6 linked regions of the Homo sapiens genome follow. The protein of the gene in region 1 purifies or fractionates together with the protein of each later gene. This does not show direct contact. Each region holds a gene or a part of one and is shown on either strand. Other genes may lie near its edges. The genes, in order: SPANXN5, EHD4, PRUNE1, BPGM, C17orf75 and KLHL18.

Region 1 (4,100 bases):
CTGCAGTGCAGTGGCACAATCTTGGCTCACTGCAAGCCCCGCCTCCCGGGTTCATGCCATTCTCCTGCCTCAGCCTCCCGAGCAACTGGGACTATAGGCACCAGCCACCACGCCTGGCTAATTTTTTGTATTTTTAGTAGAGACGGGGTTTCATCGTGTTAGCCAGGATGGTCTTGATCTCTTGACCTGGTGATCTGCCTGCCTCGGCCTCCCAAAGTGCTGGGATTACAGGCGTGAGCCACTGCGCCCAGCCAAAAACAGTCACTTTTAGAAGCAAATATTTAGCTTTCCAGATGTGTTACTCTCCGATTTTGTTTCCCTCTCCATGTCTTTTTCTTTGCCTCACTGCTTATGATGTATAACTCTTTCACGTCTTAATGCCAATAATGATAGTGATACCTTAAAACTTATATTACCATTTAATTAATTATACAAATGGGAATACTTTCCGGTGAAAAATGTGTCATTATTCATATTGACATGATGACTATAGGTGAAAACTGGATGCAAATTTCTAATATATAACTTCTACTAGATAAACATACAATTGATTTATATGTTGATCGCTTACTCTGCAATCTTGCTAACCTCAATTATTGTAGAAGCATTTTTTTTAGATTGATTTTCTACATACACTCTCATGTAGTCTTTGACAAAAGATACTTTTACTTCTCCCTTCCAATCTGAATGCATTTTTTTTTGTCACTGGACACAATCTCCAGTGCAAAGCTTAGCTATGCCCACATTCTTGCACATATTAGTCTTAGATTGCAGTATCCTGCAGGTAAATACTCAGGACAACTTCCAGCACTTGAATATTTACTCCTTCCCCCACCCCACATACTGGTAGAATTCATGTTGGGATACTACATTTACTATGAACATACACCCCTGATTTGAAACAAGACTAGGATGCAAGGTAAAGAATGTTAATTCACTAAAGTTTTGACAGACTGAGGCCATTGTTTCAGATTGGAAATAGGAAACTTAAAAGAACTACATGGACATTGGGTAAAAGAACATGGGTTGAAATTTGCCTGGCAGTAGCCCAAGAGTAAATGGTCTTCAAGGTGCATATGAAGGAACTGTAAGAGGGAAATGGGATAATTCACATCTCCACCAATAATTAAATGTAGCCACACTAGCTTGGGGGATTTGAGGTGAGACATCTAAAATACTAAGTCATGGTGAGGGCTGGAAGACAAAAGAATGAATCACTTAATAGGAATGGCTGTGGGGAAGGGCTTGACAGAATCAACCTCTCACTTCCATGTGAACCATGAACATTAAACATGGAGAAATGAGGAGCGGCAGCAGATCAGTTTGGGATGCGTCTTCAGGGGATGCTGAAACAACAGCAGCATTTGGTTTCCTCTACACCCCTGTCACCCCTCCCCCACAAGCCCAGGGAGTGGTCAGCAGTGGTGCTTTGTGATGTCTAAGCCACCCTTGGACTGCCATTGGCTGGGACACTGCCTGTATGATCAAACAAAGCTCAAGGGTGTGGCTTTGCCTTGTCACCAGGAGGGTATATATAGGGAGGGCAAGAGCTCTGGGCCACTGGGAAGCTTCAATATAGCTGTGGAAGTCTGGACTCTACAAGATCCTGCTGTAGACATTCAACAACCAACCAGAATCATGGAAAAGCCCACTTCAAGCACCAATGGGGAGAAGAGGAAGAGCCCCTGTGACTCCAACAGCAAAAATGATGAGGTAAGATTGTTAGGTTTTGAAGTGAAGGCGAGGGTGAAAGAAAGACACACAGAGAGGGGGCAGCTCAAACAGCAACACAGGAATACTGCAGACGCTTGTGGAAGTGGGGGACCAGCTTAATGCCAGATCCCACCACCGCTTACAGCCTGGGGTACTTACAGGTATGGGTGGGAGGGATCTGGGCAGCATGGCTTGCTGCCCAGCAGGATATTGATAAGATGTTCTTATGATCAGGTGGTTTGGCCCTTTTTCTGGTGGAATATCGTTGTGGTGTTCCTTAGAACTTTGCCAAGCAAGATATGATAGGGATGTTTCTTTAGTTGGGCCTTTGTCTGCCTTGTGGACAGGTGGTTAGGCAGGATGTTTCTCACGGCCTGAACCCCCATGGGATGTTTCACTTTGACCAAGGTCTGCAAAATAGCAAAGAACTTACAAAATGGTGCAGTTTGGACTAACAGATGACCCTACCCATGCTCCTCTTCTTCCCCATAGATCCCTACCCTGTGAGTCAACCTTGTTCTTCTCTGGATCGAACCCCTTCCTCAACCTGCATTCCTTCTCATAAAGCCCCCCTTGCTATCCAGTCTCTATCCTATTCACCCAAAATAATGTCTTTCTGGCCTCTCCCTGTTTTCTTAACAGATGCAGGAGACACCAAACAGGGACTTAGTCCTCGAACCGAGTTTGAAAAAGATGAAAACATCAGAATATTCAACAGTATTAGTGTTGTGCTACAGGAAGACTAAGAAAATACATTCAAATCAACTCGAGAATGACCAGTCCTGAGAGAACTCCATCAATCCAGTCCAAGAGGAGGAGGACGAAGGATCCTCACAGGAGGACGAAGACCTAGACTCATCTGCAGAATCTTCAAAGCAGGATGAAGACCTACAATTACCTGAAGGATCTTCACAGGAGGATGAAGACCTAGGGTTATCTGAAGGATCTTCACAAGAGGATGAAGACCTAGACTCATCTGAAGGATCTTTGATGGAGGAAGAAGACCCAGACTCATCTGAAGGATCGTCAGAGGAGGGTGAGGAAGACTAATTAAACATGGAGAAACCAAATTGGACAAATCCTCACCACCAACGGTGATGATTACAATAAAATCAAGTTTGAGAAGCTGATGGCTGCATATATCTATGCCTGTTTTCTGATGGTGGGGGAGAAGGGAAGGGAAGAGGTAGGCATTTGAGAAGGGAGGGATATGAGGTCCTGTAGGGTTGGTGGACAGACTCACAGGTTGACAGTAAGCCAGACATTGTAAATAAGGCCTGGGGGAGCACTGATTCCTAAAGAAAATTTTCTTCTTAAAATTTCCTCCCACAGGAAGTGGAGATGTGTATATGTTCATGCAACTGTACCCGGCAGCACATAGTTCTGCTGAATGTACATATCAAAGGTATTCCCATCCCTTTTCCATTTGATATTTTCCTAGGTTAGAAATATATGCTTTATAAAGAGTTAATGTTCTGTAAAACACAAAGCACAATACAGACATACACAGACACCTCTGCTCACTCTCTCTAGAGGGATACAATTAAAAACATTGGTTATAGGGCCGGGCACAGTGGCTTGCGCCTGTAATCCCAGCAGTTTGGGAGGCTGAGGTGGGTGGATCACCTCAGGTTTGTGAGGTTTTCAAAGAAAGATCTTGATCAAAAGAGGGAATGTGAAGCTGACTGTGTGAATGAACCAGCTTCTCCAGTGCCAATGAGCCTCATTTCAAAGCAGTGGAGATAACTAGAAAATTGTACTGTTACTATAAAAGAATAACAAAAGGGGGAAATTGTAAGGGTAACTAAACATAAAATTGAGATTTTCCTGTTGCCAAAAGAGCAAGAAGAGACCTTCCCCATTTCACTTTCCTTAGAGCATTTCCTTGAGAAAATTTGTATTTATAAATTCTTCCTTTGATATGTAAGCCTCTGGCCACCCTATAACCCAGGAATGTCTTGAACTTGAACTCCAGGCCTCAAGTGATCCTCCAGCCTCAGCCTCCCAAAGTGTTGGGATTACAGGTGTGAGCTACCAAACACCGCCACCAGGAATGTCTTTCTTCAGGGCCATGGAGCATCTCTTTGAAAGGTGAACGTTGAGGAAGATGATGTCTTTGTCTCCCTGTCACCAGGGGAGTTTAACTTAGGTGCCTTGCTCCAAGCCGTAAGCACCTGCTTGTCATAGAGATATGAGTTTTATTTTTCCTTCAGATAAAGGCAATTAACTAACACAGATGGGTACTCCAGTTACTCGATGAACTTAGGACTTGCCTGGGAGCATTTAGTGTTCACCCTTGGCTGCTGCTGTACAACAAGGCCAATTACCTACATATCTGGACTTTCTGATTTCTGCTACCACTTTTTATTTTTTGTTTTGTTTTTGTT
Region 2 (5,286 bases), on another chromosome or scaffold:
TATTTCCCTGCTCTCTACCCTTTTAAAGCCTATATAGTTTCTTGAGTGACTTCCCTCTTTTTTCCTCATTAGAATAAGTTTTCTGGGGAGAGGGAACAGAGCATATGAAGGGAGAAAGTGGAGCTCTTAAAAATGTGTAGTTTGGGATGGGGCGCGGTGGCTCACGCCTGTAATCCCAGCACTTTGGGAGGCCAAGGCGGGCAAATCACCTGAGGTCGGGAGTTTGAGACCAGCCTGACCAACATGGAAAAACCCCATCTCTACTAAAAATACAAAATTAGCCAGGCGTGGTGGCACATGCCTGTAATCCCAGCTACTCGGGAGGCTGAGACAGAAGAATTGCTTGAACCCGGGAGGGGGAGGTTGCGGTGAGCCGAGATCATGCCATGGCACTCCAGCCTGGGCAACAACAGCGAAACTGTCTCAAAAAAAAAAAATTGTGTAGTTTGCATTCATTTCAAATGGACTTCATACTTTTTCAGTGGAAATGTCTTCCTTCACAGCACCTGGGGCCAGGGATTTTCTGGAGGAATCTTTGAAATCTGTTTTCCTCAAGTTTTGGACACAAGCCTGGGTGAGCTCCATATCCATCCTTCCTCGGCTAGTACAGAGTCTAAGATGACATGGTCACTTTCCCCCATGCCCATCTCCCCTCCTTCTCTGGCCAATTCTTTATTGCCAGTCAAAGGCAGAAGAGCCAACAGCAATAAGAGAAGATTCCCACCATGTCAGCACAGGTTCTGTGTCATCAGTGACCTCTTGGAATGTGCAGGAAGCCAGGGAGATAAGAATCTATGGCTATGTAGATTAGGTACACCCCACAGCCAAGTATGAGCTTCTAGGGCCCAATCGCTAGAAGCAAACAACCCAGACCACTAACCAGGCTCTAACTAAGGCAGGATCCAGGATGCTCAGCACCCTGGGCCAACCCTTCCGCTCAAGATGAATCCATGGTTCATTTACAGTGTCTGGGGTGATATTTAATTCCAAGTTCACAAGTCTCCAGGGTAGCTGCCCTTTTGTTTGGGGATTTCCTCCCGGGTGCTAAATCACTTCCTCCTAGCTCCAATCTGAAAAGCAATTCAGGTCTCCTGTGGCCTCACCAAGCTTCCTGCCCACACTGATTTTCTTCTAACCTCACTGGTCTACCTTGTGTACATCACCTAACAACAAAGCCACTTAGCTCAAGGAAAGCCTCAAGAACAAATGGCTTCCTAATAAGGTGATTCCTCCCTCACCCTAGGGTGGCCCACAGCTCCAGCACCTGCTGAGAGGTGGCCAATTTGGATGAGGTAGCTGCCAGGAATCAAATCTCAGAACCCTTCATAAAACTGCGCTTAGCTATTCCACAAATTTCTCCAAATAATGAAACAGAGAGAAGAGTGAGAATATAATGAGAGAGAAATCTGGAAAAATACAAAAGATAAATTCATGTTCCTGTGAGTTGTATTCATCTTCCTGGGAGTTGATAATCAGGCTGGCTAGCTATCCAGTCTATGGGAGCAGAGAGAGGGCTGCATTATCTCCAGGTTGGCACAGCATCTAGCAGGGGCTCCCTGATGACACCTGGGCACAACAAGGACCTCACAGCAAAGACAAACAGGAGGAAATGCCTAGGGTGTGGGGACATGCCACCACTAAATTACAAAAATATATGCCTTTCTTCTTTGTATGTTTCAACAGTACCGCTTCCCACTCTTGTACCACTTGGCCATAACACTTTATTATCCCTAGTACCTAAAAACTAGACAGTATTACTGAGACCTTAAATGTGACATTTGTCATCTTTCAAGGTGCCAGTTACTGTAATACAGCTATGGTTCATTTTGAGTGTCTGGGTGACGGTGACATATTTAATTCTATTTTTGTCTTGTCCATAAGCACCAAATAAAGCAATTTTGAAATTACTTTCTTCACACTCAATTTATTATCTAGAACGACATTTCAATACACAGTATATTTGTTTTGTGGAATTCATTCGCAGTGTATCTGGAGGCCTGGATTTAACATATTTCCTGTAGTGATAGCTACTCTATTTGTAGGAACTATTTAGGTCACTGGAGTGGAGAAAAAGAGGTCGCTACTTAACAGAAATGGCATGTATCCAAATATAGATGCAGTTTTCTCAACACCTGTTGCACATCAAATGATGAAGAGATTGTTACAATTTCCAAAACCCTGGACCAAAACCTTAAATGATCAGCACTTTGTTTCAACTGATACACGGCTTAAGTCAGAAAAATAAGTTCTTCTTACCAAAAACAGTGAGCCTAAATATGCTGGCTGCTTTAGAAATAAAACAGGTGATCAACAAAGCAATCTGTTTCTGTCTAAATAATTTCCCAGCAAAAGTCACTTCTTTTGAAACTATATGATTTGAACCACAGGGTATGCACAGTGATTGTGTGCTTTCAGAAACACGGTAAGCATGACAAATATTTTCAGTTGTCAAGGGTAAGCGAGGAGGGAATGACCCACCTAAGAAATGGAAACTAACAAATAGTAATATGACACTCCCCCTTAGTTCCACAGGCTGGTGCGGCTGCTACACGCAGCTCACTTCCTACGGGCGGCTAAAGGCGGTGCATGAACTGAACGTAGGCGGCCTCTTTATCCCCTCCCCACAACACTGTGGGGTGGCACGTAAAGACCTCAAGGGAAGGGGGCCTGGGCGATACGCTCTCCTGCTGCCATTCATTTGTTCAAGAAATAGTTGAACAAATGAATAGTTAAACAAACTCTCCAACTAGGACTCTGTCCCATTCGGATACCCTACGCCTCTCCCCCCATTTCCATCCCTAGGCATCACTCCCTCGTCAAGAATATGCTGATTATGGCTCGCGCCCCCTCTCTCCCTTGGACCCTCCCGCCAGGGCGACCGGACGAGGCCAGCGGGAGCAACGCCTTCCGAACCGCAAGGAAGGAGGGCTCGGAGTGCGCAGGGCGCGGGTTCGCGGGACCCTCCAGCGCGCGGGGCTGGCCAGCCGGGGCGGGGCCGAGGGCACCGGGCGCCGAGCTCCGGGAGGGGTCCCCGAGGTCGCGCCGGCCGGGAGGGGCAGCGGCGGGAGGCGGCCGACTGCGGCGCACACGTGGGGAGGGCGGAGCGGGGCGGGAGCCGGGCGAGGGGCGGTGACGGTACCTGATGAAGGTGGTCTTGCCGGTGCTGTACTGGCCCACCAGCAGGATCATGGGCTTGTTCTCGAAGTCGGCGTCCTCCAGCGCAGGCGAGTGGAACTCGTGGAAGCGGTACGCCTCCTCCAGCGGCAGCACCTTGCGCAGGTAGAGCGAGCGCAGCCCGCCCGTCACCGTCTGCACCGCGTCCGCGCCGCCAGCGCGTTCGCGCCCGCCCGCCTGCCGCCCCATCCAGCTGAACATCCTGCCGCCAGTCCACGCTCGGATGGGACCCTGCTCCGGGTTCGACTCTCCCCGGCTCGCACTGAGCCGCCCCGGCCGCGCTGGCCGCCGCCCGAGGAGGGCCCCGCCTTGTGCTGCCACAGCCAGTCTTCGGCCGCTACGTCACGCGCGCTCGCCCACTATTCAGACGAGCTCTCTCAGGTCCTTCCTGATTGGATCTCTGCCAGAGAGGGCTGAAGGCGTCAGCCAATTGAGAGGAGGTTCTTAATGAATTATTGATGACGGAGTCATTCTAGAGGACTGGGCGGGGAGATGGTGTCTTCCCGGCCGGGTGGCACTGACCGGTCATGCTCAGGGCCCCCTTCTGGTTGCCGGTGCCTCACCTCTGGCCAGGTGGCATCGGCTTCCGGGTAAATCTGAGCTGCCCAAAGCGAGCCTCCGGAGGCTGCTCCATCTCCTGGAACGTTTACTCATTCAGGCCTCTGGACGTCGATACTGGGGATGAAAAGTTCAGAAAGTGGACAGGCAGGTTCTGTCTTCCCGGGGGCGGGTGGTTATGACTCCGTTTTACAGGCCAAGAGACCCAGGCTCACGGGCATAATTGACACAATCTTGAGGGGAAGTGGACTGGAATCTATTTGAGTAGCCGTTTCTCCTACTTCTCCACATTGCCCTCACTAAATTCTGGATCAGCTAAAGGCTTTTTCCCCTTAGTTTTCTTTATGTGTTTTTCTGTAAAGCCGAAAATTTAGTCATTACTCTCATTATTACATTATCCTCATTATTACAACTTTATTTCCACATATTGACATGTGAGTCATTGTCACCTCCTAGCTGTTTTTTGTTGTTGTTGTTGTTTTCTGAGACGGAGTCTCGCTCTGTCGCCCAGGCTGGAGTGCAGTGGCACGATCTCGGCTCACTGCAACCTCCGCTTCCCGGGTTCAAGCAATTTTCCTGTCTCAGCCTCCTGAGTAGCTGGGACTACAGGCGCTCACCACCATGCCCAGCTAATTTTTGTATTTTTAGTAGAGATGGGGTTTCACCATATTGGTAAGGCTGGTCTTGAACTCCTGACCTCAGATGATCCGCCTGCCTTGGCCTCCCAAAGTATTGGGATTATAGGCGTGAGCCACCGCCCCTGGCCTGTTTCTTTTCTAGGTTAAAAGGATACTCACTTATCTAAGTTGAGATTGGGGGAAATAATCACCTTTTGTGTCCTTGATTGTAGCTTAGGAATATTTCTTAGTTGTTTTAGAGCATTTCTCAAGTGTGATCCATGGGGCCACCTGCATATATGCATTTATGAGCTGGGATGCTTGTTAAAATGCAGATTCCTGGTCTTCAGTCCAGACCTACTGAGTTAAAATATTGAGGAGAGATGGAGCTCAACAGATGCCCTAGGTGACTCTGATGTGGCCTAAGTCTGGGGAAACAGTACACCCTGCAGTACTTCTCCAACCTAACAGAAATGCGGATTCTGATTCGGTAGGTATGGGATGGGGCCCATGACTCTACATTTCTAACAGGCTCTCGGGTATTGCCAATGCTACCCATCCCTGGACCATACTTGGAGTATGAGAGAACAGGACTTTGCATCAAAAGATCTGGGTTTGAACCTTGACTATGTAAATTAATGGCTGTGTGATTTTAAATGTGATGAGTTACCTCTCTGCCCTAGTTTCCTTAAGAGCAAAATGGAAACTCCTTTGGAGTTGTTGTGTGGGTCACATAGTTGGAGGGAATTGTATGTAACTAGGGAAGTGAAAAGAAAGCCAAGGGAAAATAAAGTTAGACATCTGCCTTGTGTCAAAATAAAACAAAGATTGAAATGTAAAAAGAAAATGAAACCACTGCACTACTAGAAGAAGGTACAAGAGATTTATACAATTTGGCGGTGGAAAAGCCTTTCTAACCAACATTAAGGACAGAAAT
Region 3 (4,584 bases), on another chromosome or scaffold:
TCAGGAGGCTGAGGCAGGAGAATTGCTTGAACATGGGAGCCAGAGGTTGCGGTGAGCCGAGATCATGCCATCGCACTCCAGCCTGTGCAACAAGAGCGAAACTCCGTCTCAAAAAAAAATTTTTTTTAATCTATAAATATCTCAATAATGTCTGTTTAACAAATGTACACATTTATAATAATTCCATCCCTAATTTACTACTGGAAAAAACTACCAAAAAAGCAACACGATTATGTGACTTTCCTAAGTCTGTTTGGCTCCTGCTAATATTTTTTTCTTGAGCACATTGTGGTTATAGCAGGATACTGACAGAAGGCAGCCTGAGAGAGCATTATCCATCTATGGATTCATTCAGTAATAAACTTTCCTTTTTTTTTCTTTTTTTTTTTTGAGACAGAGTTTTCTCTTGTTGCCTAGGTTGGAGTGCAATAGTGCAATCTAGGCTCACTGCAACCTCCGCCTCCCGGGATAATTTTGTGTGTGTGTGTGTGTGTGTGTTTTTAGTAGAGATGGGGCTTCACCATGTTGGTCAGGCTGGTCTTCAACTCCTGACCTCAGGTGATCCGCCCACCTCGGACTCCCAAAGTGCTGGGATTACAGGTATGAGCCACCGTGCCACCACCTTTTTTTTTTTTAAGAGATGGTGTCTCTCTCGCTCTGTCTCCTAGGCTAGAGTACAGCGGCATCATCATAACCTTGAGCTCCTGGGTTCAAGGAATCCTCCCGCCTCAGCCTCCTGTGTAAAAGCATCATTCCTGGCTAATTTTTTTTTTTTTTTTTTTGAAACTGAGTTTTGTTCTTGTTGCCCAGGCTGGAGTGCAATGGCACCATCTCGGCTCACTGCAGTGAGCCTCCCAGATTCAAGTGATTCTCCTGCCTCAACCTCCCAAGTAGCTGGGATTACAAGCATGCGCCACCACACCCAGCTAATTTTTTGTATTTTTAGTAGAGACGGGGTTTCACCATGTTGGCAAGGCTGGTCTCAAACTCCTGGCCTCAAGTGATCCGCCCGCCTCAGCCTCCCAAAGTGCTGGGATTACAGGCGTGAGCCACCACGCCCGGCCTGGCTAATTTTTTTTTTTTTTTTTTAAGAGACGTAGTCTCGCTCTGTCGCCCAGGCTGGAGTGCACTGGCGCGATCTCGGCTCACTGCAAGCTCCGCCTCCCGGGTTCACGCCATTCTCCTGCCTCAGCCTCCCGAGTAGCTGGGACTACAGGTGTGCCCGCCACCACACCTGGCTAATTTTTGTATTTTTAGTAGAGACAGGGTTTCACCGTGTTAGCCAGGATGGTCTCGATCTGACCTCGTGATCCGCCCGCCTTGGCCTCCCAAAGTGCTGCGATTACAGATGTGAGCCACCATGCCCAGCCTTTATTTTTTATTTTAAATATATATATTTTTTTTTTATGGAACAGTTCACAAATGTGCATGTCATCCTTGCTCAGCGGCCATGCTAATCTTCTCTGTGTCATTCCAATTTTAGCGCATGTGCTGCTGAAGTGAGCACTGATCTCAGTCTTGAAAGAGGACTAGGTGTTTGCTTGGTGAATTGGGAGGGAGGAGGGAAGGTGGTTAGGAAAGGCATTCCAGGCAGAGGGAGTAATTAATAGAATCAAATGCAGGCAGGCGTGAAATAGCATGGTGAGCTAGGGGAAATGGAATTTGTTTTGCACAGCTGGAGCATAAAATTTGAGGGAGAAGTAGGACATGGAAAAAGATGAGACAGAGGGGGCAGGCAGGAGGCAGATTATGGAGGCCTCATAGGCCCTTCTAAGGTGATTGGATTTTATTTTAGGCCGTGGGGAACTATTTTAAATTATATTCTGGGTCCTAAAAGAATCAGATTTTCTTTTTTCAAATGATCATTCAGGCCACTTTGTGAAGGACAGCCCAGGAGGGCTCTTGGTTGGAAGCAGGTGATTGGTTAAGAGACTACTGGAATAGTCCAGACGAGAGATATTGAGGGCCTAGAGTGGGGCAGTAACAGAGAGTTAGAAACTAGGGCATGGATAGGAATTAAGATAGAATTCACAGGACCTGGTGACCCACATGGAATCTAAGTATTGAGTGGGTTATAAAAATAGGAGAGATTTGCTGGGCGCGGTGGCTCATGCCTGTAATCCCAGCACTTTGGGAGGCCGAGGCGGGCGGATCACGAGGTCAGGAGTTCGAGACCAGCCTGGCCAATATGGTGAAACCCCGTCTCTACTAAAAATACAAAAATTAGCTGGGCCTGGTGGTGGGCGCCTGTACTCCCAGCTACTTAGGAGGCTGAGGCAGGAGAATTGCTTGAACCTGGGAGGCGGAGGTTGCAGTGAGCCAAGATTGCACCACTGCACTCCAGCCTGGGCGACACAGCGAGATTCCGTCTTAGAAAAAAAAAAAAAAAGGAGAAATTTAGATGTTGGGTATCAAGGGTGTCAAGGGTATAGGGTTGGAAAGGCAACGCTAAAGGACAGCAAATGTGGGGGTAAGATATTTGCAGCAGATGCTTCACAGAATTTGCTTATACACTATTTAAAGATGACTCCAATTATAACATTAAAGAAAAGAATTGCTGGGCGCGGTGGCTCACGCCTGTAATCCCAGCTCTTTGGGAGGCCAAGGCGGGCAGATCACGAGGTCAGGAGTTCGAGACCAGCCTGACCAACATGGTGAAACCCCATCTTTACTAAAAATACAAAAAAAAAAATTAGCCGGGTTTGGTGGCACGTGCCTTGTAATCCTGGTTACCCAGGAGGCTGAGGCAGGAGAATCACTTGAACCCGGGAGGTGGAGGTTGCAGGAGCCGAGATCGTGCCATTGCACTCCAACCTGGGCAACAGAGTGAGACTCCGTCTCAAAAAAAAAAAAAAAAAAGAATTGAGAGGAGTTAGGCAGAGGTAAAAGTAACCAAAGGTCAGTTTTAAATGCTTGCCTGGCAGATCACCTGAGGTCAGGAGTTTGAGACCAGACTGGCCAACATGGCGAAACCCCATCTCTACTAAAAATACAAAAAAATTAGCTGGGCATGTTGGCAGGCGCCTTTAATCCCAGCTACTCAGGAGGCTGAGGCAGGAGAATCGCTTGAACCCGAGATGCAAAGGTTGCAGTGAGCCAAGAACGCACCATTGCACTCTAGCCTGGGCGACAAGAGTGAAACTCCGTCTCAAAAAAAAAAAGACATCTGCATTTTCCTTGATGTGTGGGGTAGAGGTTGGCTAGAAGCAGCTGGAGTGTCCGTACCTATCTTTCTTCCTCTTTTCCCATACCCTCCCCTCCACAGAAGTGACACAGCCCTAGAGGAGGCAGTAGCAGAGGTGCTAGACCATCGACCCATCGAGCCGAAACACTGCCCTCCCTGCCATGTTTCAGTTGAGCTGGTGGGGTCCTGTGCTACCCTGGTGACCGAGAGAATCCTGCAGGGGGCACCAGAGATCTTGGACAGGCAAACTGCAGCCCTTCTGCATGGTAAGGGTGGCTTTTGGATTGGGACCTCAGTAGTTCTATTCCTGTCCCTGAGAAGGGAGGGTGGAAAAGTCTAGACGCTTCCAGCCTAACCATATGCTCTCAGAGCCATTCAGCTCATACCAAAAGATAGGATTCTTTCAGGGGACAATTGAGCATGTGTTTAAAGGCCTGTGGGATACTTGTTGGAGAAAGTAGAAAGGAAGTGCAGGGCAACAGACCAAGAAGCTTCCTATTGGCATCATTTTATGATGGAAGGAGGATTAGCTAAAGAAGCAGGAAACAGATTCCAATACCAATTCCTCCAGGAAATAGGTGACCTTGAGCAAATCTCTTAACCTTTCTTGTTCTCATTTTTCCACTTGTAAAAAAAAAGAGAGAGAGAGTGAGTTGGACTAGACTGTCTTTTCCAACTTAGAAGATTCTTTGATGGGATTTGGCCTACTGAAGAGGTGTATCTCTGTCTGACTAGGCTGTAAAATCTCCAAGGTTTGAGATGCTCAGGCTTTCTTTCTACCTTTTCCCCATTTCCCTTCCTACATTTTAGTTTGGATTTGGGAGGTCTGAGGACACTGTCCATCCCAGTTTCTCATTTTGCTTTCAGAGATTTTGCTATACAAATCTCCTTGTGTGTGTCCATTTGGTGTGAAGGTTATATATGTTCTGGTGGTTGTGTGTGAAGGGTCACAGGATTCAAGTTCCACCATCTCCCTTCTCCACAGGAACCATCATCCTGGACTGTGTCAACATGGACCTTAAAATTGGAAAGGCAACCCCAAAGGACAGCAAATATGTGGAGAAACTAGAGGCCCTTTTCCCAGACCTACCCAAGAGAAATGATATATTTGATTCCCTACAAAAGGCAAAGTTTGATGTATCAGGTATGAAATGTTAGCTGACTTTTCTGCCTCCCAGATAAGAAAACAGAAAGGCAAGCCTTGTTCATTATATTATTTTTTTTTTTTTGAGACAGAGTCTTGCTCTGCCACCCAGGCTAGAGTGCAGTGGCACAATCTTGGCACACTGCAACCTCGACCTCCTGGGTTCAAGCGATTCTCCTGCCTCAGCCTCCCGAGTAGCTGGGATTACAGGCGCCCACCACCACGCCCAGCTAATTTTGGTATTTTTAGTAAAGAT
Region 4 (4,584 bases), on another chromosome or scaffold:
TTACCTTTCCCTGCCTCTGGCAACCATAATTCTGCTATTGCAATACATTCAATTTTCAAAATTTTTAGCTCCCACATATGAGTGAAAACATGTGAAATTTGTCTTTCCATGCCTGACTTATTTCACCTAACCTTAGGCTCTCCAGTTCCATCCATGTTGTTGTGAATGACAGGGTTTCGTTCTTTTTATGGTTGAATGATATTCCATTGTATATATGTGCCAAATTTTCTTTATCTGTTCATCTGTTGATGGGCACTTAGATTGCTTCCATATCTTGGCTATTGTGAATAGTGCTGCAACAAACATGGAGTGCAGGTATCTCTTCAGTATACTTATTTGCTTTCTTTTGGATGTATACCCAGTGGCGGGCTTGCTGGATCATATGTCTACTACCTGTTTTTGAACAGCCCACAAACTATGCATGGGTTTTACATGTAAAACGGTTGAAATAAATTAATATTTCATGTGCATGAAAATTATATGAAATTCTAATTTCAGTGTCCATACCTGAAGTTTTATTGAAACAGATTTATTCACTTATATATTATGTATGGTGGCTTTCAGCTGCAATGGCAGAATTATACAATTGTACCTAATTATGGCAGAGACCAGTATAGCCTAGAAAGCCTAAAAAATTTGCTATTTGGTGGTTTACAGAAAAAGTTGCTAACATCTGAGCTAAGCTATAGTGTCTTTCACGTTTATCTCCTTCATCTCACTTAAACGGCCATTGTCCTGGTCCAAGTCTTTATTCTGTGTTACCAGAATTATTGCAAAAACCTCTCAGCTAGTGTTCATACTCCTGGGTTTTCCTGTCTATTTCTGTAAGTAAGTGCTGCCTGATCCTGCTAAAATGCATGCTACTAAACTTTTAATGATGTCCCAATATGTATAGAAAAACCTACATGCTTTGGCACAGGCTTTTTTTGTGTCACTATTTTTTCTTATCTTTCTAGGCTAGTCTTCTCCTGCTTCCTTATTATACCCTATACTTACAGTGGCCATATAATTTTCCAAATGGGACACTTAAGTGTGAAAGGGGCCCTAGTAGTAATTATGTTGGGGAAACAGGCCTAAGACAATACTGTTCTGTAATAATGATGCATGTGCCTCTTTCTCCTAACTACCCTCTCTGTCTTGACCTTGCCAAAAGAATGCTAATCTTGAACCATAACTTCAATTTTATGGTGGCATTTATGGAAAGAATATTTTTTGCCTATTAGGCAAATCAGGATGTATGGTTACTCTAGCTATACTCCAACCAGTTTGAATGGGCTCGCCATTTTCCATATGTACCTGTTCCTTTGCCTTCACTCACTGTTCCCCTAGATTGGAATTCCTTTACTTTTTTCTGTAAATCTAAACCTTGCCTTTCCAAATCCAGCTTAAAAAATACTGTGTCCACGAAGCCTTACTCAGAAATATTCTCTCCCATCCCACCTCTCTTTTACTAATGAAGTGCTTTCTCATGGTGTGAATTACTTTGAGTTTTAGGTACACACACACACACACACGTACTGAAGATGAAGACATAATTCTTGTTGGATTACATATTCCTCATAGGCCTAGCATTGGGCCATGCCTAAATGGGATCTGCAAAATGTTTGAAGAATGAATTAATTGGTCAGGCTAGGGCGACTGAGTATTTGGGGCTTTCAATTTATGAGTCATCCATTTTAATGTGATTAAAGCAGTGAGAAAAGGGTTTCCAAGAACTGAAGACTGAGCCTCAGGTTTCAATGTGACAGTGTAGCAAAATGGTTCAGGGCATAGATACAGACTTCTCGAGACTAAATTCCAGCTCTGCCATTTACAGCCTCTGTTACCTTAGGCAAGTTAACCTTTCCTCCTGTTTCTTCATCTGTGAAATGGGAGTAATCATAGTAGCCACTCCATGGAATGGTGGTTGAGGATTCAAACAGTGCCAAGTAACATTGAACTAACATTCACAGGTGAGCACTCTGTGAATGTTGGCTACTGTGACTAATATGATCATCTTCATAGTACTCTTACAGGTAGGTAAGAAAATGCAGACACCCAAGACCAAGATGTAACCGTGGAAGAGCTGGAGGAAATGCTACACCAAAATCTTAGTGGGTTTTTTTTCTTGATGGAAGTAGTCTGTTTTAGAGAAGTCATGAGAGAAGATGATCTCCACTTAGTAAGAAGTAACTAACCTGTAGTCTTTTGAGGCACCATTTCAGTAGAGTGGGTAAGGCACAAGTTTGGTGTCAGGAAACTAAAAAAGGAATGGCTAGAAGGGAAGGTAAATGGACAAGAGGAAGGGGAGGGAGGATAAGATACACAGCTGTGTAAAAGATGTTTCCTTAGTAAACTTTTTCTTCAAGCCAGATCACACTTTAAAAAGGAAGACACCCTGGGGGATAAATCAATAACCTATGTGTTCTTTTTTTGACATGATGTAAATTATTGATTAAAATCGGTACTTAAGTGCCAGTAACTTTTGCTATGGGATAAATGAGAAACCAGGTACAGGTTGGTGAGCTTTTATGAAAAACAAAACAAAACAAAAAAAATAAAGCTTGAGGTTGAAAAGGAATAGTTTTTAATTTGGGATGGGGAGTATTTATTCTTAGTAAGGTTCCTCTTTATAAGTTGGGGTGACTATTGCCTGGCTTACTTTGTGCCTTGAGGTTTTTCTCAAGAGTACTAATAAGGTGAGCCCTCCTTCATGTTCACCTTGTTCGTTTGCGTTTGATGAAATGGCTGCCTGGGTTTGGAAGGACAAGTTGGAACTGGAGATACCCCTGTGAAGTGAAGCCAAGTGAGCCAAGATCCTCAAACCATGACTCTAATATCTCCAGTGGGGGGTTGAAGGCAGAAGACCAGGGTTGCAGTTCCAGTTTGCCATTTACTGGCCATATGTTTTTGAACAAGTCAATCAGAATCTCCATTTTTTTCTGTGGAGATTATGGCCATCCATGAACATACTAAACTTATAGTACAAAAGTACAAAGTACAGAACTATAATGGATAATTATTCTTGGCTCCTGTTTTGACATAAATACCCTGAGATTCTTAAGTTAAAGTTTCCTAACATCTTAGCCCTGCCAACTGATTTTACTGTGGCAGTTACCACTAAAACTCTCAAGCCTTAGTCTCATGTGTACAATCCAGTCATTTCTGTCTGACTTTGGTTCAGTCAGTACACCTACTGAGTGCCTCATATGTGCCAAGCGATGTGCTAGGTTCTAGAGATACAGCAGTAAGACCTGCCTTGATGCAGCTTACAGTCTTACAGGGCACATAGCCATTGAACAGGTAATATATCTCAAGGGATCCATCGCAAGTGCACCAAATGTGGTTAAGCGGGATGCTACAGGAGTAGGTCAGCAGGCCTGACCTACTTCCCAATGGGTGAAGAGGAAGTCTAAAGCCAGGGGTTCTCAAAACATGGTCCTTGGACCAGCCATGTCACCATCACCTGAGGACTTGCTAGAAATGCATATTCACAGTCCCACCCCAGACCTACTAAATCAAGCTCTGGAAGTGGGCCCAAGCAATCTGTTTAATTTGATTTTGATATACATTAAAGTTTGAGAACCACTGGCCTACAGGAACTAACATTTAAGCTGAGCTCTAAAGCTGCATGATCTAGTGCGGTAGCCACTGGTCACATGTGGCTATGGAGCACTTGAAATGTGGCTGGTTCACATTGAGATATGCTTTCATTATAAAGTACACACCAGATTCCAAAGACATACTGTGAAAAAAAAGAATGTAAATTGCCTTATTAATAATTTTTGTATGGATCATGTGTTAGAATTGTATTAGTTCTCATGCTGCTAATAAAGACATATCAGAGACTGGGTAATTTTATAAAGGAAAGAGGTTTAAATGATTCACAGTTCAGCATGGCTGGAGAGGCCTCAGGAAACTTACAATCATGGTGGAAGGGAAGCAAACATGTCCTTCTTCACATGGTGGCAGCAAGGAGAAGTATAAGTGAAGTGGGGGCAAAGCTCCTTATAAAACCATCAGACCTCGTGAGAACTCACTTTCTATCATAAGAACAGCATGAGGGTAACTGTCCCCATGAATCAATTACCTCCCACTGGGTCCCTCCCATGACACATGGGGATTATGGGAACTACAATTCAAGATGAAATTTGGTCTTGGCCCCTCCCAAATCTCATGTCCTCTCATTTCAAAACATAATCATGCCCTTTCCAACAGTCGCCCAAAGTCTTAGCTCATTTCAGCATCAACCCAAAAGTCCAAATCCAAAGTCTCATCTGAGACGAGGCAAGCCCTCTCTGCCTATGAGCCTAGAAAATTGAAAGCAAGTTAGTTACTTCCTAGATACAGTGGGGCTACAGGCATTGGGTAAATATACCTGTTCCAAATGGGAGAAATTGGCCAAAACAAAGGGGCTACAGCAGGCCCCATGCAAGTCCAAAATCCAATAGAGCAGTTGTTACACCTTAAAGTTCCAAAATGATCTCCTTTGACTCCATGTCTGAATGATAGCTTTTGGACCTATAGGATTCATGTGGCTTGTAGAAAATTTAAAACTTCATTGTGCCTCGCATTATATCTTGATTGGACACAACTGATCTAAAG
Region 5 (5,317 bases), on another chromosome or scaffold:
AAAAAAAAAAATTCTGATGGGGACGTGTTGTCACCTTATTTAGTTTTGTTTGTTTGTTTTAAGAGACAGAATCTTACTCTGTCACTCAGGCTAGAGTGCAGTGGTGCAATCATGGCTTACTGCAGCCTTAACCTCCTGGGTTCAAGCAGTCTTCCTGTCTCAGCCTCCTGAGTAGCTGGAACTACAGGTGTGCACCACCACACTCAGCTAATTATTTTTATTTTTTGTAGAGACGGGGTCTTGCTGTGTTGCCCAGGCTAGTCTCAAACTACCGGCCCTTAGGCAATCCTTTTGCCTGGGGCTCCCAAAGTGTTGGGATTACAGACATGAGCCACCATGCTAGGTAGATTATTTTAAAGTATTTTTATTTTGTATAAGAGATTTTTGGCTGCGCGTGGTGGCTCACGCCTGTAATTCCAACACTTTGGGAGGCTGAGGCGGGTGGATCACTTGAGGTCAGAAGTTCGAGACCAGCCTGACCAACATGGTGAAACCCCGTCTCTACTGAAAATACAAAATTAGCCTGGTGTGGTGGCACACACCTGTAGTCCCAGGTACTTGGGAGGCTGAGGCAGGAGAATCACTTGAACCCAGGAGGCAGAGTTTGTGGTGAACCGAGATCAAGCCATTGCGCTTCAGCCTGGGCAACAAGAGCGAAACAAGAAAAAAAAGGAGATTTTCTTCTTCTACCAAGGGCAAAGCATACTGCAATTTAAATTTTGGAAATATTTAATATGAAAAGCAAACAATTCAGGAAGATATGTTGAGTTCTCAGCTGGATAGGAGTTATTTTTTGAGCTTCATTATTATTTCACTTAACACATTTTTAACTGGGTAATCATTTTCTAGGCCATACAAGACACAAACAATTTGAAGAGATTTATCCGACAGGCAGAAATGAATCATTATGCTTTGTTTAAATGTTACATGTTCCTAAAGAACTGTGGTAGTGGAGATATACTTTTGAAGATTGTTAAAGTGGAACATGAAGAAATGCCTGAAGCCAAAAATGTGATAGCTGTCCTTGAAGAATTCATGAAAGAAGCTCTTGACCAAAGTTTTTGATCATATGTTTTGAGATAATTGTATGATCAAGTTGTATATTTAAGTCTTAGTGTTTGAAATTGCAGTTATAATTGTTCATAGGATTGCTATTTAAGATGATTTGAAACTCAATCCAGATTTTCTTTTTGTATTTTACCAATTTAACTTAAATAAAAATCTGAAGAACATCTTCACTGAGTCCTAGATAGATAATGTATGTGAGAGTTGTGAAATTTTAGTGTCTCACTGGCCCCATAAATTCCACGCTTCAGGAAGTTGTTGCTTAAAAAATTTCAGAGATGATTTTGTTTGTGGCTTTTCTCAGGAAAAGCCTGAGTTTGCTGCAGTATTTAGCAACTTTTCTTCTCAGAAAAACCATAATACTTCCTTTTCAGTGGACTGTAGCTTCTTAAAAAAAAAAATGTAATTCTAGTCTTAGAACAGATTAATACCACTACACCAGTTCAGAGATAGATCTGTGCATCCTGTGGGTGCTTGATACATTTTTTTGTCTAGTTGATAACGGCATGGATGATAAAGTCAGATTTTAAGTCAATATGCAAATCCTGAGTATGTAGAAAATTAAATGAGCTTTACAAATCGATGCACTAGCTTCAAGATAAAATATTATCTTTGAGCTGGGCGCAGTGGCTCAAGCCTGTAATCCCAGCACTTTGGGAGGCTGAGGCGGGCAGATCATGAGGTCAGGAGATCGAGACCATCCTGGCTAACACAGTGAAAGCCCGTCTCTACTAAAATACAAAAAATTAGCCGGGCATGGTGGCGGGCGCCTGTAGTCCCAGCTACTCTGGAGGCTGAGGCAGGAGAGTGGCGTGAACCCAGGAGGTGGAGCTTGCAGTGAGCCGAGATCGCGCCACTGCACTCCAGCCTGGGCGACAGAGCGAGACTCTGTCTCAAAAAAAAAAATAATTATCTCTGAGAGAAAGCTACTGCAGAAATCGCCTTCAGTCACCATTTCATTTATTTGTTCACAGGTATTTATGAAGAGCCTGTGTTTTCTTTTAGGTGAAAATGCTGGAGTTTTAAAACAGTGTTGAGAAAAGAAACAAAGTACATACAGTTTACAAGCAAACTGTAACATAAGGAATGCAAACAGTTTCTTCCTATTAGAGTTACTCATTGATTTTAGTTTTTTGTACATTTGTTACAAGCCTCAGATTGTTTTACTCTGAATCAATTGAAAGTGCCCTCAGCTAGCCATTTACAATTCCCATGGAAGCCTATGTAGCTACATACATACAATTGCAATTTGCTCGGGATAGCTCTTTAATAAATTCATTTGATAATGATTTTTGCTTAGAAGAACAGAAGTCTTGTGTTCTCACTTCCCTGAGGATGCTCAGAGGAGCACAAACCCATAAAACTGAGGAATCCTCTCTTAAATGGATCTAAATTCACATTAAGTGCTGAGTTTTAACTTTCAAAATGACTGACAATGGCCTTCTGCTTTCTCCTCTACATAAGCCTCGGGACATGACTCACATTTCTTTTCTTTTAATGAGAAATACAATTCAGAATCTTCATAAATGCTTTCATACGGTTTTAAACTTTAATAACTTGGAATGTAGGCAGTATAGAAAAAAATCTAAGTAGCATTTTTCATAGTATTAAAGTGAGAGTGGCTGGGCACGATGGCTCATGCCTGTAATCCCAGCACTTTGAGAGGCCGAGGCAGGTGGATCACCTGAGGTCAGGAGTTCCAGACCAGCCTGACCAATATGGTGAAACCCTGTCTCTACTAAAATTACAAAAATTAGCTGGGAACTGTGGCATGTGCCTGTAGTCCCAGCTACTTGGGAGGCTGAGGCAGGAGAATCGCTTGAACCCGGGAGGCAGAGATTGCGGTGAGCCGAGATCGCGCCACTGCATTCCAACCTGAGTGACAGAGCGAGACTCTGTCTCAAAAAAATAAAGTCAGGGTGACTAAGGAAAACCAGCAATTTTATGACACTGTCCTTGAATCTGACTGTCTTTTCCCAATGTAGTTGGTTCCCCACTTGGAAATCATTTTTTAAAGTAAGCTACATTAGCACATCAACGTTTTAAGTCTGAAAAAATACTTCATTTTCAAATTCATGTCATTCAAGAGTCTATGTTGTAAATGGCATTTAAAAGCAAATGTGTTACCTGCTTCAAATCATTTATGGATATAGGCAAGGTGTAATTACATATTCTCTGTGTGGTTGTATATATTTTTGTAATGTAGGCTCACTACATTACACAGCTCTATATGATAGTCTTATTTTATCTTTTTTTTTTTTTAATGAAATGGGGTCTCACTATGTTGCTCAGACTGGTCTTAAACTCTTGGACTCAAGCAATCCTCCCACCTTGGCCTCCCAAACTGAGCCACTGCACCCGGCCTCTGGTAGTCTTATTTTAAAAAAAGTAAGTCTGGGCTGGGTGTGGTGGCTCATGCCTGTAATCCCAGCACTTTGGGAGGCCTAGGCGGGCAGATCATGAGGTCAGGAGATCGAGACCATCCTGGCTAACACGGTGAAACCCCGTCTCTACTAAAAGTACAAAAAATTAGCCGGGCGTGGTGGCAGGCGTCTGTAGTTCCAGCTACTCGGGAGGCTGAGGCAGGAGAATGGCGTGAACCCGGGAGGCGGAGCTTGCAGTGAGTCGAGATCACACCACTGCACTCAAGCCTGGGCGACAGAGCGAGACTCCGTCTCAAAAAAAAAAAAAAAGTCTGACAAACTCTGTATCACTACTGTAGACAAGGAAAATGGTGTCATGGAACTGAATATCTTGGTCATGAGAAGAAACCACAGAGTTCATGACTAGAAACATGTACTGTATTCAAATTTTAATAAGCTACTATCTTGGCTTTTAAAGTTGTTTTTTTTTTTGTTTTTGTTTTATTTTTTAAGACAGAATCTCGCTCTGTCACCCAGGCTGGAGTGTGGTGGTGCAATCTTGGCTCACTGCAACCTCTGCCTCCCAGGTTCAAGTGATTCTCCTTCCTCAGCCTCCCCAGTAGCTGGGACTACAGGCATGTGCCACCATGCATGGCTAATTTTTTGTATTTTTAGTAGAGACGGGGTTTCACCGTGTTAGCCAGGATGGTCTCGATCTTCTCACCTTGTGATCCACCCGCCTTGGCCTCCCAAAGTGCCGGGATTACAGGCGTGAGCCACTGTGCCCAGCCAGCTTTTAAAGTTTTAAAAAGGATTTGTTCAGACATGGAATATATTTGTGTATATTACTTGTGTGCTGTACACACAGAGGAAATGTATGTTTGTCATGTATGAAGAATGGCTTCAGTTTCTCTGTAATTAATTTGTAATTATAATAATAAAACTTAGCTTCTCATCAAGACAGTTGTTTTTGTTTAATGAGCTCAGTCCTCAAGCCTAACATTTGTATTCCCAACAAGGTTGTGAGGAAATTATACTTGCTATACTAAGGAATTTGTTGAAGAAGATCAAATCACTTGCTGGGATACACACCTTTCTGCTTCTTGCAGGAGGCATCAAGCAGAATCTAAGAGCAATTTCCCTCACAATGTTTTATTCATTGTCCAGTAGAGTTATACTCATAGAACTCAATAACCCAAGTTACTTCCTTTCACTCTCATTCATTATTCACCATGACAGAATGCCTGTCCTCTACCAGAGGATCCCTTAGACCAGGTGCCAGGAAAGCCTGCGGGCTTCTTGGAAATAAGATGCAGTTACTAGGACCACACTTTCCTAACAGTGTGTCTTCTCACTTAATGGAAACCCTGCTGACTTCAATGAAGTCTTTCCACTTGGAGGTCTGAGAGGGCAGTCCAGTTCTCTTAATTGCTAAAGTTCCTAAATGTGGCTGGATGTGGTGGCTCAGGCCTGTAATCCCAGCACTTTGAGAGGCCAAGGCAGGAGGACTGCATGAGCCTAAGAGTTCAAGACCAGCCTGGCAACACAGTGAAATGCCATCTCTACAAAAAATAAAATTAGCAGGACCTGGTGGTATGTGCCTATAGTCCCAGCTACTCAGGAGGCTGAGGCTGGAAGATCGCTTGAGCCCAGGAGCTCAAAGTAACTGAGCTATGACTACCACTACACTCCAACCTGGGCAACAGAGCAAGACCCTCTCTCAAATATAAAGAAATAGGCCAGGCACGGTGGCTCATGCCTGTAATCCCAGCACTTTGGGAGGCTGAGGCGAGCAGATCACCTGAGGTCGGGAGTTCGAGACCAGCCTGGCCAACATGGAGAAACCCCATCTCTACTAAAAATACAAAATTAGCCAGGCATGGTGGCAC
Region 6 (4,584 bases), on another chromosome or scaffold:
ACCAGTCCCATCCGACCCCACCCAGCCAGAGGGATTGCTCCTCCTGTACCTGCACCATGTCCGTCCAGTGGCTCCTCACTGTCTCCTCTAAGAGAATCCAGGTTCCTTCATGTGGTTTTTAATTTTTTTTTATTTTTGAGACAGGGTCTCACTCTGTCACCCAGGCTGGAATGCAGTGGTGCTATCATAGCTCAATGCAGTTCTGACCTCCCAGAATCAAGCAATCTTCCTGCCTCAGCCTTCTCAGTAGCTGGGACTAGAGGCTTATGCCACCATGCCTGGCTAATGTTTTTTTCTCTCTCTCCTTTTTTTTTTTTTTTTTTTTTAAAAGAGACAGGGTCTCTCTTATGTTGCCTAGGCTGGTCTCAAACTCCTAGGCTCAAGTTACCTTCCTGCCTTGGCCTCCCAAAGTGTTAGGATTACAGGCGTGAGCCACTGTGCCCAGCCCTTCATGTGGTTCTTCACCTCTTGGTCCTCAACCACCCTTCAGCTTCACCCCACACCACATGCCACCCACCCTGCTCCGTCTCCCATCCACACGCTGTGCTCTAGCCCATGAGAGGATCATTGCTGTTCTCGATTACAGTGAACACTTTCTTATTGCAGCCTCACTCCTTGTTGTCTCCCTATGATGAGCAAACACCTCCCATTGGCTATCCATGACAGGTCTCACCTTGGAAGACATCCCTGCTACCCTGTCCCTTCCTGCAACCCTGGGGAAGATGAAGGTTCTCTCTGCTCTGTGCCCAAGAGCTTCTGACACAGGCCTCCAGGGTAGGATGATCATGATGCAACCCATGGCCCAACCACATTGGATGCTTTAAAGGATCTCAGACACCCAGCTTGCTGTCTGATCCACAGTAGATTGGTCAAGTGAACAGAATACTGGCTTAAAGGCATCCTAATAAGTCCATTCAACTAATTTGTTTATATTTTATTATATAAGATGAGAGGATTCAAATACTGAAATGAAAAACTCGGGCTAACCTTGTCAATGTTTTTCAAAGAGTGTTCCACAAATGAGTCCCACAAGATGGTGACTGTTGTGTATATAAAACCCGAGGTTAAACAGAGTTATTTACTGCAGGGTTTCTTAGAGTCTTTAAAATGTTAATATATCTTATGGAAAGACAAGGACTCTGGCAGTTCAGACATCAACATTTCCCAAGCCTATCTGACCACAGAACTTAAAAACATTTTTTTTTTTCCAAATCATATCCTACCCACTTTGGAACATGCTGTTCATCTACTTCTTATTCCCTCTTGCCTGTATTTCCATTAAAATGGGCTGATTTAGCTAAGAGGTACAGACCATTAAATAAGTATTTCCAAGCAACTATGTAGACTATTTGTTTTAAAATTTTATTTACTCATTCTTTCACTTAACCAAGGGTTATTAAATATCTAGTATATACAAAGTACTATACGGGCAAAAAGGTAAGACATTCTCTACCCTTGAGAAGCTTAAATTAAAAAAACTACAGTTCTGATTTTTATACTCTCTGTTTATAAGCTCCAGTTGCCCCAAGGGAGCTGGAGTCCTTACTTGTCCGTCTCAGGTGAGTAGGTCTCCACGGAGCTGAGGGAAGAGTTGCCATCGTAGCCCCCACAGACGTAGATCTGCCCATCCAGCACGACTGTCCCCATGGCACTGAAACAGACAGAGCTGTCATCCCAGATGAGCCGCAGCCTTCCTGGAGCAGCCTCTCTTGCCCACTGAGAAACAAACCTATCAATTGCCTCTTTCTGCAACGTAAATCTAAGGTATGTGACTAAGTAAAGGCATAAAACTGAGGTGACAGAAGCTGCCCCATCATTCCTCTTGTGCCCCACCCTTCTACCGCAGGCTGCCTCCCCTCCCTGCTCTTCTCTGTCCTTAATCTTTCTAAAATGCTTACCTTCCACCTCACCATGTGAAGGTCGAATTTACCTTGAAGGCCCAACTCAACTTCCACTCTCCTCTTCCTCCCCTTTGTAAGAATTACTCTTTCCCACCCCCACGCTCCCTGAGTGGCTTATTAATCAGCAGTTGTTACAATCATTCATTCATCCATCAGATCTGTAACAGCTGGGGTTTAGAGTGGTAAGCAAGCCAAAGTTCCAGCCCACAAAGCACTTATGTTCTGACATTATAGGCTACCAGGAATCTATCTGCCACTTCTGTGTGTAATTTTTAATCAGAGCCTTGCTCTGTCACTCAGGCTAGAGTGCAGTGGTACCATCATAGCTCACTGTGCCTTGAACTCCTGTGCTCAATTGATCTTCCTGCACTTCAGCCTCCCAAGTAGCTGGGATTACAGGTGTGCACCACCACACCCAGCTAATTTTTTTTTTTTTGAGACAGGGTCTTGCTATGTTGCCCAGGCTGGTCTCAAACTTCTGTCCTCTTGTCTCAGCCTCCCAAAGTGCTGGGATTGTTAAGAGTGAGCCACCACACCCAGCCAATCTATCTGCCACCTCTTAATAAGTGAGGAGCTCCTGGAAGACAGGAAAGGGCCTTCACCTGTGTGACCCTCACAGTGATAAGTATGATGTCCTGTATGTAACAGGCACTGAATGTATGTTTGTTGTGTTACCTCTGCTTTTTCCCACTCAATTCACAGATGTTGTTTTCATCATGTGCATGGCCTCTAATTTATCATAGTGGCTGATGCCACAGCTCCTGTTTGCTGTGCATTTACTACATGTGTTAGGTACTCTACATTTGTTATTTTCTTTTTTTTTTTTTTTTTGAGATGAGGTCTTGCTCTATCATCAGGCTGGAGTGCAGTAGCACAATGATGGTTCACAGCAGTCTTGACCTCCTGGGTTCAAGGGATTCTCCCACCTCAGACTCCCCAGTAGCTGGGACTACAGGCACATGGCACTATGCCTGGCTAATTTTTTTTTTGTATAGACGGGGGTCTCACTATGTTGCCCAGGCTGGTCTTAAACTCCTGGGCTCCAGCAATCCTCCCGCCTTAGCCTCCCAAAGTGCTGGCATTACAGGTGTGAGCCACTGTGCATGGCCCACTTGCTATTTTCAGCCCTTAGCACACCCTGCAAGGAAGGAAAGAGCACCATAATCACTGTACAGACAGGCAGCCATAGCTTGGGGAGGCTGAGGTCTCTCCTCAAGACTGCCCAGAGAGAGGCCTGCCTCAGATTTAAATGAGACAAGCCCAACTCCCCAACTCCTTACATGCCAAGCTCTCCTAATATCAAAGACCCAGGGGTCTGGTGGTGTAATCATGTAATCTTCCCTCCTACACAACGCCTTATAAGGAATTCAGCACAAATGCCAAGCTGCCCAATTCACTATTTTCAAATGTGATGCTGGTGAAGATTAAAAATGAATCTAGGTTTCTAACAAACAGGAAAATAAAACATACCAGGCTTAATGCTACCTTTTCTTTTTTTTGAGACGGAGTCTCACTCTGTCAACCAGGCTGGAATGCAGTGGCACGATCTTAGCTCATTGCAACCCCCGCCTCCCCGGTTTAAGCAATTCTCCCTGCCTTAGCCTCCCAAGTAGCTGGGATAACAGGCGCCCGCCACCATGCCTGGCTAATTTTTGTATTTTTAGTAAAGACAGGGTTTCACCATGTTGGCCAGGCTGGTCTCAAACTCGTGACCTTAGGTGATCCGCCCTCCTTGGCCTCGCAAAGTGCTGGGATTATAGGCGTGAGCCACCATACCTGGCTTGCTGCTACCTTTTAAATGTACATAGTAATCAAACTGATCCACAGAATGTCCCTTTCAGGGACATGATAACTGACCCCCTGAACCAGCCAGAAAGAGGAGAGGGACTTGCCTTAGGCAAGTATTGTGGGAAGATCACAAATTTACTAGACATGATCACTATCCTTCTGGATACGGACACAAAACAAACATAAAAATTACATAACAAAACAGGTGTTGAACAATATGAAAATGAATTAAGAGGTGCCCCAAAACTGCATGAGATTAACTATCAACTAGGTGGTAAAGGCGAGTGTGAAGAGAAGGAGAAAATGCTGATCAGCATGGACTGGAATAGTCCAGTGTAAGAAAGGTCTATGGGATGGCGTAGAACACTGGGGGAGATAGGAAGGAAAGATGGCAGGATGTCACTAACTGGCAGAACAGACAGCTGTGTGGGATGTCAGAAGAGAAGTGACTAGGAACGTTTTAAGGTAGCCTGTAATTTAAAAGGGATGTAATGGAACCGGGCCCACACTAATAACAGGATATTAACCACAGTGAAGGAAAGGAATACCCAGAGAACTTTCCTCCAAGACAGCCCTCTAAACCCAGTAACATCAAAGCAAGGAAGTGGTCCAGAGCAGACACACAAGGAAGGACAGCTGACTGCAGTCAAAGCAAAAAAGCTACTCATGGTTGGGGACACGGAGCAATGAGTCACTCAAACATAGGAAGCTGCAAAGTATCCAAGGAGCAAAAGTGGGGATGGTGGGAGGAAAGGACTCTCAATGCGTTCTTGGGAGGGGCAGATCTTACGTATTTTTTTCTTCCCAAAGGAACCTACTCCGATGCTTTGTGAACTGGTCTCACCAGTACAAAGGCAGATCCCTCCCAGCTCACATCCACATGCAAACGCTGCTG

What was found.
Region 2: the proteins of SPANXN5 (region 1) and EHD4 purify together in Homo sapiens (affinity purification with mass spectrometry; one large-scale study listed by BioGRID and IntAct). This does not show direct contact.
Region 3: the proteins of SPANXN5 (region 1) and PRUNE1 purify together in Homo sapiens (affinity purification with mass spectrometry; one large-scale study listed by BioGRID and IntAct). This does not show direct contact.
Region 4: the proteins of SPANXN5 (region 1) and BPGM purify together in Homo sapiens (affinity purification with mass spectrometry; one large-scale study listed by BioGRID and IntAct). This does not show direct contact.
Region 5: the proteins of SPANXN5 (region 1) and C17orf75 purify together in Homo sapiens (affinity purification with mass spectrometry; one large-scale study listed by BioGRID and IntAct). This does not show direct contact.
Region 6: the proteins of SPANXN5 (region 1) and KLHL18 purify together in Homo sapiens (affinity purification with mass spectrometry; one large-scale study listed by BioGRID and IntAct). This does not show direct contact.

Annotation. Positions count from the first base shown.
Region 1 is NC_000023.11:52,794,887-52,798,986, reverse strand, and holds SPANXN5 (sperm protein associated with the nucleus on the X chromosome N5), read left to right. Parts: upstream 1-1,559; 5' UTR 1,560-1,638; coding exon 1,639-1,713; intron 1,714-2,355; coding exon 2,356-2,499; 3' UTR 2,500-2,843; downstream 2,844-4,100.
Region 2 is NC_000015.10:41,969,120-41,974,405, forward strand, and holds the start of EHD4 (EH domain-containing protein 4), read right to left. Parts: upstream 3,439-5,286; 5' UTR 3,376-3,438; coding exon 3,140-3,375; intron 1-3,139. UniProt on the Homo sapiens protein: ATP- and membrane-binding protein that probably controls membrane reorganization/tubulation upon ATP hydrolysis. Plays a role in early endosomal transport.
Region 3 is NC_000001.11:151,021,346-151,025,929, forward strand, and holds part of PRUNE1 (exopolyphosphatase PRUNE1), read left to right. Parts: intron 1-3,265; coding exon 3,266-3,450; intron 3,451-4,169; coding exon 4,170-4,328; intron 4,329-4,584. UniProt on the Homo sapiens protein: Phosphodiesterase (PDE) that has higher activity toward cAMP than cGMP, as substrate. Plays a role in cell proliferation, migration and differentiation, and acts as a negative regulator of NME1. Plays a role in the regulation of neurogenesis.
Region 4 is NC_000007.14:134,652,632-134,657,215, forward strand, and holds part of BPGM (bisphosphoglycerate mutase), read left to right. Parts: intron 1-4,584. UniProt on the Homo sapiens protein: Plays a major role in regulating hemoglobin oxygen affinity by controlling the levels of its allosteric effector 2,3-bisphosphoglycerate (2,3-BPG). Also exhibits mutase (EC 5.4.2.11) activity.
Region 5 is NC_000017.11:32,327,511-32,332,827, reverse strand, and holds the end of C17orf75 (protein Njmu-R1), read left to right. Parts: intron 1-849; coding exon 850-1,065; 3' UTR 1,066-4,387; downstream 4,388-5,317. UniProt on the Homo sapiens protein: As component of the WDR11 complex acts together with TBC1D23 to facilitate the golgin-mediated capture of vesicles generated using AP-1. May have a role in spermatogenesis.
Region 6 is NC_000003.12:47,337,639-47,342,222, reverse strand, and holds part of KLHL18 (kelch-like protein 18), read right to left. Parts: intron 1,667-4,584; coding exon of another isoform or gene 1,652-1,666; coding exon 1,547-1,651; intron 1-1,546. UniProt on the Homo sapiens protein: Substrate-specific adapter of a BCR (BTB-CUL3-RBX1) E3 ubiquitin-protein ligase complex required for mitotic progression and cytokinesis.